2 separate regions of the Homo sapiens genome follow, and region 1 is reported to be linked to region 2. Evidence: microRNA targets listed by miRTarBase, many of them from high-throughput screens and not tested one by one. Region 2 holds a microRNA gene; the other region holds the end of a gene's coding sequence.

What was found. Region 2 holds the annotated microRNA hsa-miR-4697-3p (UGUCAGUGACUCCUGCCCCUUGGU, at 1,934-1,957, opposite strand). A microRNA usually pairs through its seed, bases 2 to 8, with sites in the 3' UTR of a target mRNA and lowers its output. Matches are read on the target gene's strand: a 7mer-m8 pairs with bases 2 to 8, a 7mer-A1 pairs with bases 2 to 7 and ends in A, and an 8mer does both.
Region 1: the mRNA of PDZD8 is a reported target of hsa-miR-4697-3p. Seed matches in the 3' UTR shown: 7mer-A1 at 2,136-2,142 and 7mer-A1 at 1,162-1,168.

Annotation. Positions count from the first base shown.
Region 1 is chr10:117,280,698-117,283,697 of GRCh38, forward strand. It overlaps PDZD8 (PDZ domain containing 8), which reads right to left. Exons shown (of 5, transcript NM_173791.5): 5 at 1-3,000. The coding sequence ends at 2,571. Among named protein-coding and RNA genes, the nearest start is that of SLC18A2-AS1, 40 kb to the left of the region's middle.
Region 2 is chr11:133,896,573-133,899,801 of GRCh38, forward strand. MIR4697 (microRNA 4697) reads right to left here and starts at 2,009; the gene lies at 1,932-2,009. IGSF9B (immunoglobulin superfamily member 9B) reads right to left here. Exons shown (of 20, transcript NM_001277285.4): 20 at 1-3,229.

The DNA of each region.
Region 1 (3,000 bases), not on the chromosome of region 2:
TATTGCACTACATTACAGATATAGTTTACAAATGTCATTAGCAGCATTACTGAGCTTTCTATAATTGTGGTCTACAGAGTTAAATACTTTTAAAACATGAGTAGATTCTTATAAAACCAAAGTTTTGCATTATTTCAACAGCTCTTTCAAATGCATCAGTTTCAGCAACATGCTTGGGTATCATGAAAACTTCCATGGTTTAATCAATAAACACCAGCTACTTACAAGTAGTCCACCTTCCAGGTTATCAATGGTAAGTTATTTTTTATAAAGTGGTTACACACTGAGCAGATTGCCTCAAGTGTAAGTTATGGAACAATACTTTAGCTTTCAGGGAATTTGGTGTGTAAATTCTTCTATAGCAGTGTTCTTTTAAAATAAGATCACGTGGCCGGGCGTGGTGGCTCACGCCTGTAATCCCAGCACTTTGGGAGGCCGAGGCAGGTGGATCACGAGGTCAGGAGATCGAGACCATCCTGGCTAACATGGTGAAACCCCGTCTCTACTAAAAATACAAAAAATTAGCCGCGCCTGTACTCCCAGCTACTCCGGAGGCTGAGGCAGGAGAATGGCGTGAACCTGGGAGGCGGAGCTTGCAGTGAGCCGAGATCATGCCACTGCACTCCAGCCTGGGAGACAGCGAGACTCTGTCTCAAAAAAAAAAAAAAAAAAAAAAAAAAAAAAAAAAAAAAAAGACATCACGCTTAAATAAGTAATGAAGTATACTGAGATGTTTTTGTTATAAACTTGGCTAAGAAAGGTATTTAGTACCTGAAATTTTCGCTTACTAAAGTAACAAAAGGCATGAGACTTGGCTATTGATTTTTAAAGTGGAATAACTTTTCTCCCCTCAAAAATGTCTTTCTTACTCATATAAATAATGCCTTTTACTTGTATATCTTTTTACTGTTCAAAGCACTTTTGCAGTTATGCTATTGTTTCCCTCACAACAATACTGTGAGGGAGGTAAAGTATTATTATTCCCATTTTAGAGATGGGTCCTTTTGTAACTGCCTATGCTTACACAGTTCATTAATGGAAGGGCTTGAACTTAAACTCTTTTATGGAGTCCTGGAGTCTAGACCTGGGCCCCAGTCCTTAATATTACACCATGCTTTTTCCTGCCAGCAATAAAAGCTGCTCCATCTAGTTTTAAACTCATGTCAGTTTCACTATATAGCAATCATCATAGCAGTTACCTACAAAGGGACAAACATATACTTGTCTATTTTATAGGTATATAACAGACCGAAACCATTAAGGTACCCCAACAACAGTCGAGCTTACTTGTTTTCCCTCAGTCAAATGTTACTGGGACCCGTAAAATGGACCCAGTGTGAGTATATCTTCATTTTCAGAGAACTGGTCCCAATTCCTATGTATGAATACTATTTTTGTCATTCTTTTCTTAATGAATACTCACTACAGAAGTATTCAGAATGATCACCATTCCTTTACAACTGTAAGACGCCAAAGCAAAAAGTATATTTTGCATGATTCCTTTCCTTCACAGAATACTCCTACATGAAAATGTTTTTTCTAAAACAAAACCAGCCCAAACTAGTTATCAACACAGTCATTTTAAAAAGAGTCCTCCAAAACTTTAAATACCCTTTCACATGCTTTATTTCCTATGGGAGAACTGATGAGGAAAATTATCATAAATGTTTAAACTTTTAATTATAAAATTTAAATTTCCATTTAAAAGGAAAGCATCAATATTTTAAAAGATTATATTTCAAAATGCTATGTTACTGTTTTTCAGTAATTAAGTCTTGTTATCCTCTCTACAAAATTCTTGACCAACTGCAATCTACATTTATTTCCTATTACATTGTCTTTCAATGTAAGCTCTTCAAATTAATCACCATATTTTTACCATACAGCTGCACAAAAGCTTTAGAAAAAAATTTCACAGAAGCATCGAAAGCAAGCAATATATGTAAAAAATTTTTTTTTACTAAATCAGCATAACAGACTAAAGCTGCAGCATCTGCTTTCATGTTACATTTGGCAAAAACAAAACAAAAAGCACCCCCAAACCCCCAAAATAACAAAAATCTCAAGCAAGTAGAGACGATAAACTTCATAACACAAAAGAAAGATTCAAAACCTGTTCCCTCAGTGATTGCTGTTGTCAGTTTGGGCATGCAGCAAATTTGTTATAACCATGATGGAAATGAAAATATTTTAAGAATCTAGACAGTATTCTATTTAACACTAATTCAAAAACCAAGAGGAAGAAAAATAACACAAGGGGACACCATACATACATAAACATGAAAAGCTAGCTTACATAATTACATAATTAGAAAAGTTAAATAATTTAGTAAAAATAAATTCCCAGTATAAACCCAAAAAAGCATAGCTATAAATGCAATCCAAAACAACCAATTAGTAAGCTGGTCATGTTTTTACTGGAAAACAACCTTTCTCATTTTTGTTCTTACACAAGCAAGTAACTGGAGAAGCAGGCCAGAGTGCATACGAGGATTTAAACATGGTTGTATCTGTGGTACTTTAGATGCAACTTTACCCTGTTCATTTGAAAGCTTAAATAGACCTGTCTGCTACACAGACTCGGATGGGCCAAATAAGTCATCTGATATGCTGCTGAATGGCTGAGAGTCTATTAGTTGGCTTATTTCATTATCAAGGTCTTCTTCTGTATCATCTGTGTACTTGCTTATTTTTTTGGAGTGCTGGTCTAAAGACAGACTTTCTAAAGTTTCTATATCTTCAATGCCTGCTCTGTAGTGAATCATAAGAAGTGTTAGAGCTTGTAGCCTTTCACCTGATTTAGCTAAGGCAGCAGAAAGAAGTGATTTTTTCCTTGTATCAGTTGTCTCTTTTTCTTCTCTAACAAGGGAATTATTGTGTTCCAACTCCTGATCAATTTCATTCTGTAGCTTATCCAACATGAACTCTAGTTTCTGGATCCTTTCCTCTGTAGGCAAGCCCCTGTACAGATCACGACCAATTTCTTTAACTGCAATGAAA
Region 2 (3,229 bases):
TGCACATCTCATCATTTGATGTGTGCCTTCTTTTTTCTCATTTGCTTATGCACGTGTTTGCTCATTTTGATTTGTAATTCAGGATATGAACATGCAGTGTTACTGGGGATGAGTTGGTTAGTACTTAGCAAGCCTGGAAATACCAGCGAGTGGAGCCTGGCGTGGTAGCCTGAGCTGAGGCAGGCTGCAGGTTCTCTTCCTGACTGAGTCTGGGGTGTCACTCCATTTTTGACTGCCAAGTCAAAGGACAAAGGGATCACCATCATCAGCAGCCAGGGCAGGCGTCTATTGCTTAGGGCCGTAGAGCAGGCGTGGCTTTGGGGTCATCTCCAGCGGGGTCTTCTCAGTGTTTGGGAAGAAGGGGCAGGGCAGTCTATAGGCCCAGGCCCAGCAGCAGGATGCCCAGGGTCCCTGCAGGAAGAACCCTCTTCCCCAGGAAAGCAAGGAAGGGTTCGGGAGGAGACAGTTCCTCCTACTCTTGGAAGTCTGTGATTTGGTGGCTGGGGGTGCCTGCCCATTGGAAGGGCCCCTTATAAATGCTTTGAGTTTGGAGATTTTGAGGGAAAAAAAGCACCTGATTGAGAGTGTAGCTGTTTCCAATACACCTCCCTTCCCTGACGGAGAAGGGAAGGAGGCAGAAAACAGGGGAGAGAGCATCCCCCCTTCATTCCCACACCGCCCCACTCCCAGAGCCAACCTGGGCCTCCCTTCAAGCTCGTACTTAGTACATTCACCATGACACTGTGCACCTGTGAGCTCTCTCCCGCTCTCACTCTCTTGCGTGCACACACGCACACGCACACACACGCACAGGTATGCACACATATATATGCAGGTGCGCGCACACACACACATCTGGTTTCCTTGCAGTCTGCTCAGGCAGCAGAAGGGTGTCCCATCCTCACCGTCATCTTTTACTTCCCAGGGTGCCCTTGGCCCACAGGTCCCCAAGACCCAGCCCCAGGCTTGGCACGCGCTGGCATTCCCAGGCTTTTGAGAAGAGGGTGATAGAGCAGGGAGCTCCTCACAGACAGGTTATACAGAGTGTAGAATATGTTCATATAAGGCTTTGGTACAGCACCGATTTCATGTTCTTATAGTTTGATTTCTAAGTCATCTTTTAGAAGAAAAAAAAGCTTACTGAAAAAATAGTGGTTTTATTTACTTTTGAGTTACATACCTGAAGTTCAAAAAGTAAGCCTCTAGTTGCCATTCAAGTTCACACTCAAAGGTGTTCTGTGTGCAGCTGTACAATTTGTTGGTTTGTCTTTAATGTTGAACAAAAGTCAGCCAACCCATACCATAAAGTCAGCTGCCCAAACTCACTTTAACCAGTCCATACATACATACAGAAAAGAAAGAGAGAGAGAGGGAGAACACAAAAGCCGCCCCTAAGTCACCCACCCCAAACCCCTAGGGAAAAATCAGAAAGAAGACAAAATACAGCAAGATATCAGGAGCCAGTGGGAGGAAGGAGATTCAGCCCAACTGGCCTCTTCGAGAACAGCACCATGAAGCACCCTAGCGCAGTGATGTTGTAATACTCAACATTCAAGAAATGGAAACGAGGTTGGAACGGTCTTCACAGGAAGACCTGGCATGGATCGGGGGTCGCCCCCAAAGAAAGTGGAAGAAAGAAAGAGTTCGAAATGAGAGCAAGAAATCTCATGACGAAACTGACAGTCATATCCAGAAAAGAAGAACTACAGCAAGAGGCTGCCGCGCACCGAGAGGTACAGAGTTTGTAAGGGGTCTGGGGGAGGTAGCCCCTCCCCACCCACACTGCCTGCTCACCCCCACCCTCTGTGTGTCCTCAGACCACCAGGTGAAATGGAGGAAAGAAGCTCATCTAAAACTTGCCCCCAGGTGTGCGATGGGAGAATTCTATCCTGCATGATCAAAGTCCCTCCTGGGGAAGAGAAAAACACTGAAGACCAAGGGGCAGGAGTCACTGACATGAAGCGGGATGTGGTCCCTTCACGTCAGTGACTGCGCCCCCTTCTGGGCCCTCTATCCCCAGCCCCACACCTGGCAGTTAGGAAATTAAATCTGAATGGGAGGTCAAGACCTTCTGACACTGATACAGACGACTTAGCAAGTGGAGCGTTAAACTGCTCTTCTCCCCTAGCCAACAATTCCCCTTTCTAACACCTCAGTCTAAAGTTCCAGAATCAAGACCATCCCATCAAGTACCTTCCTCCCAGTCCCTGGACTCTGAGACTCCACCCTCCAATGCCACAGGCAACCCCCTGTGGACAGGAAGTGTGTGTGCAGGCTTGCCTCTTCCCCCACCTCCTACTTTCAGACCGCCCAAAGTGGATCACCATGAACATCTACCGCCAAGAAGAGTGGAAGCGGGAAGCAGGCAGCAAAAATCCACGACAGAGCCTTTTCCCCAAGCTGCTGGTTGGTGACAGTGGGGAAGAGGGACAGGGCCCACACTGATCCATGGGAGAGTGATTCTCACACATCTCCCTATTCCCGACTCTTGCTCTATATAGTAGACAGAGGTAGCAAGACAGAAACAACTCCTCAGATACCTCCACCTTCTACCAAAGGGAAAAGCACCAAAATTCAATGTCCATTCTGCTGTGGGGACCAAGGAACGTGTCCCAAGCATGGGGAAGAGCTCAGGCTCCTGGCAGTGGCTGTGGGCCGTAAAAGCTCCATCAGAGCACACTCATCCACCTGTCGCCCCAACTGATGCCACAAGCGGTTCCCAGGCCTCCTCCTTACTCCACATAAAGCTGATCTCAATGACCTTTGCTCCAAGTGCCTTAAGGGCTGGCTCTTCAGAGAAGCTGGAGGTCCCCTCTGACACCCAACCTTACCTCATCTTGCTGAGCAGTGGAGCAGAAAGGTCACAGGTAGGCACTAACATCCCCTCCACACTGTACAATTTCAAGGTAGGGGCTATGGCCCCATCTTCCCTTTCCCTCCCCAAAATGAAGAGTCCTGTTGGAGGCTGAGGAATAGAATGGTGACATGTGGGCCAGTGGCTCTCCCAGACCTTGATGCTGCTGAGGACCTAATCTTGGGCTGGCCCTGGTGGGAGGGCAAGCCCTAGGACATGCCCGAGGTGTTGGAGCAGTTTACTCTGCTGGTTGCATGTGGCCAGAAGTCGGGCAGAGTCCACAGAAAGAGAGGGGATGGTGGGTCTAGAAGCCAACAGAACAGTAATGGGAGCCTCCCTTGTGCAGAGACCGTGGTGGTCTGGGAAGGCTTCAAG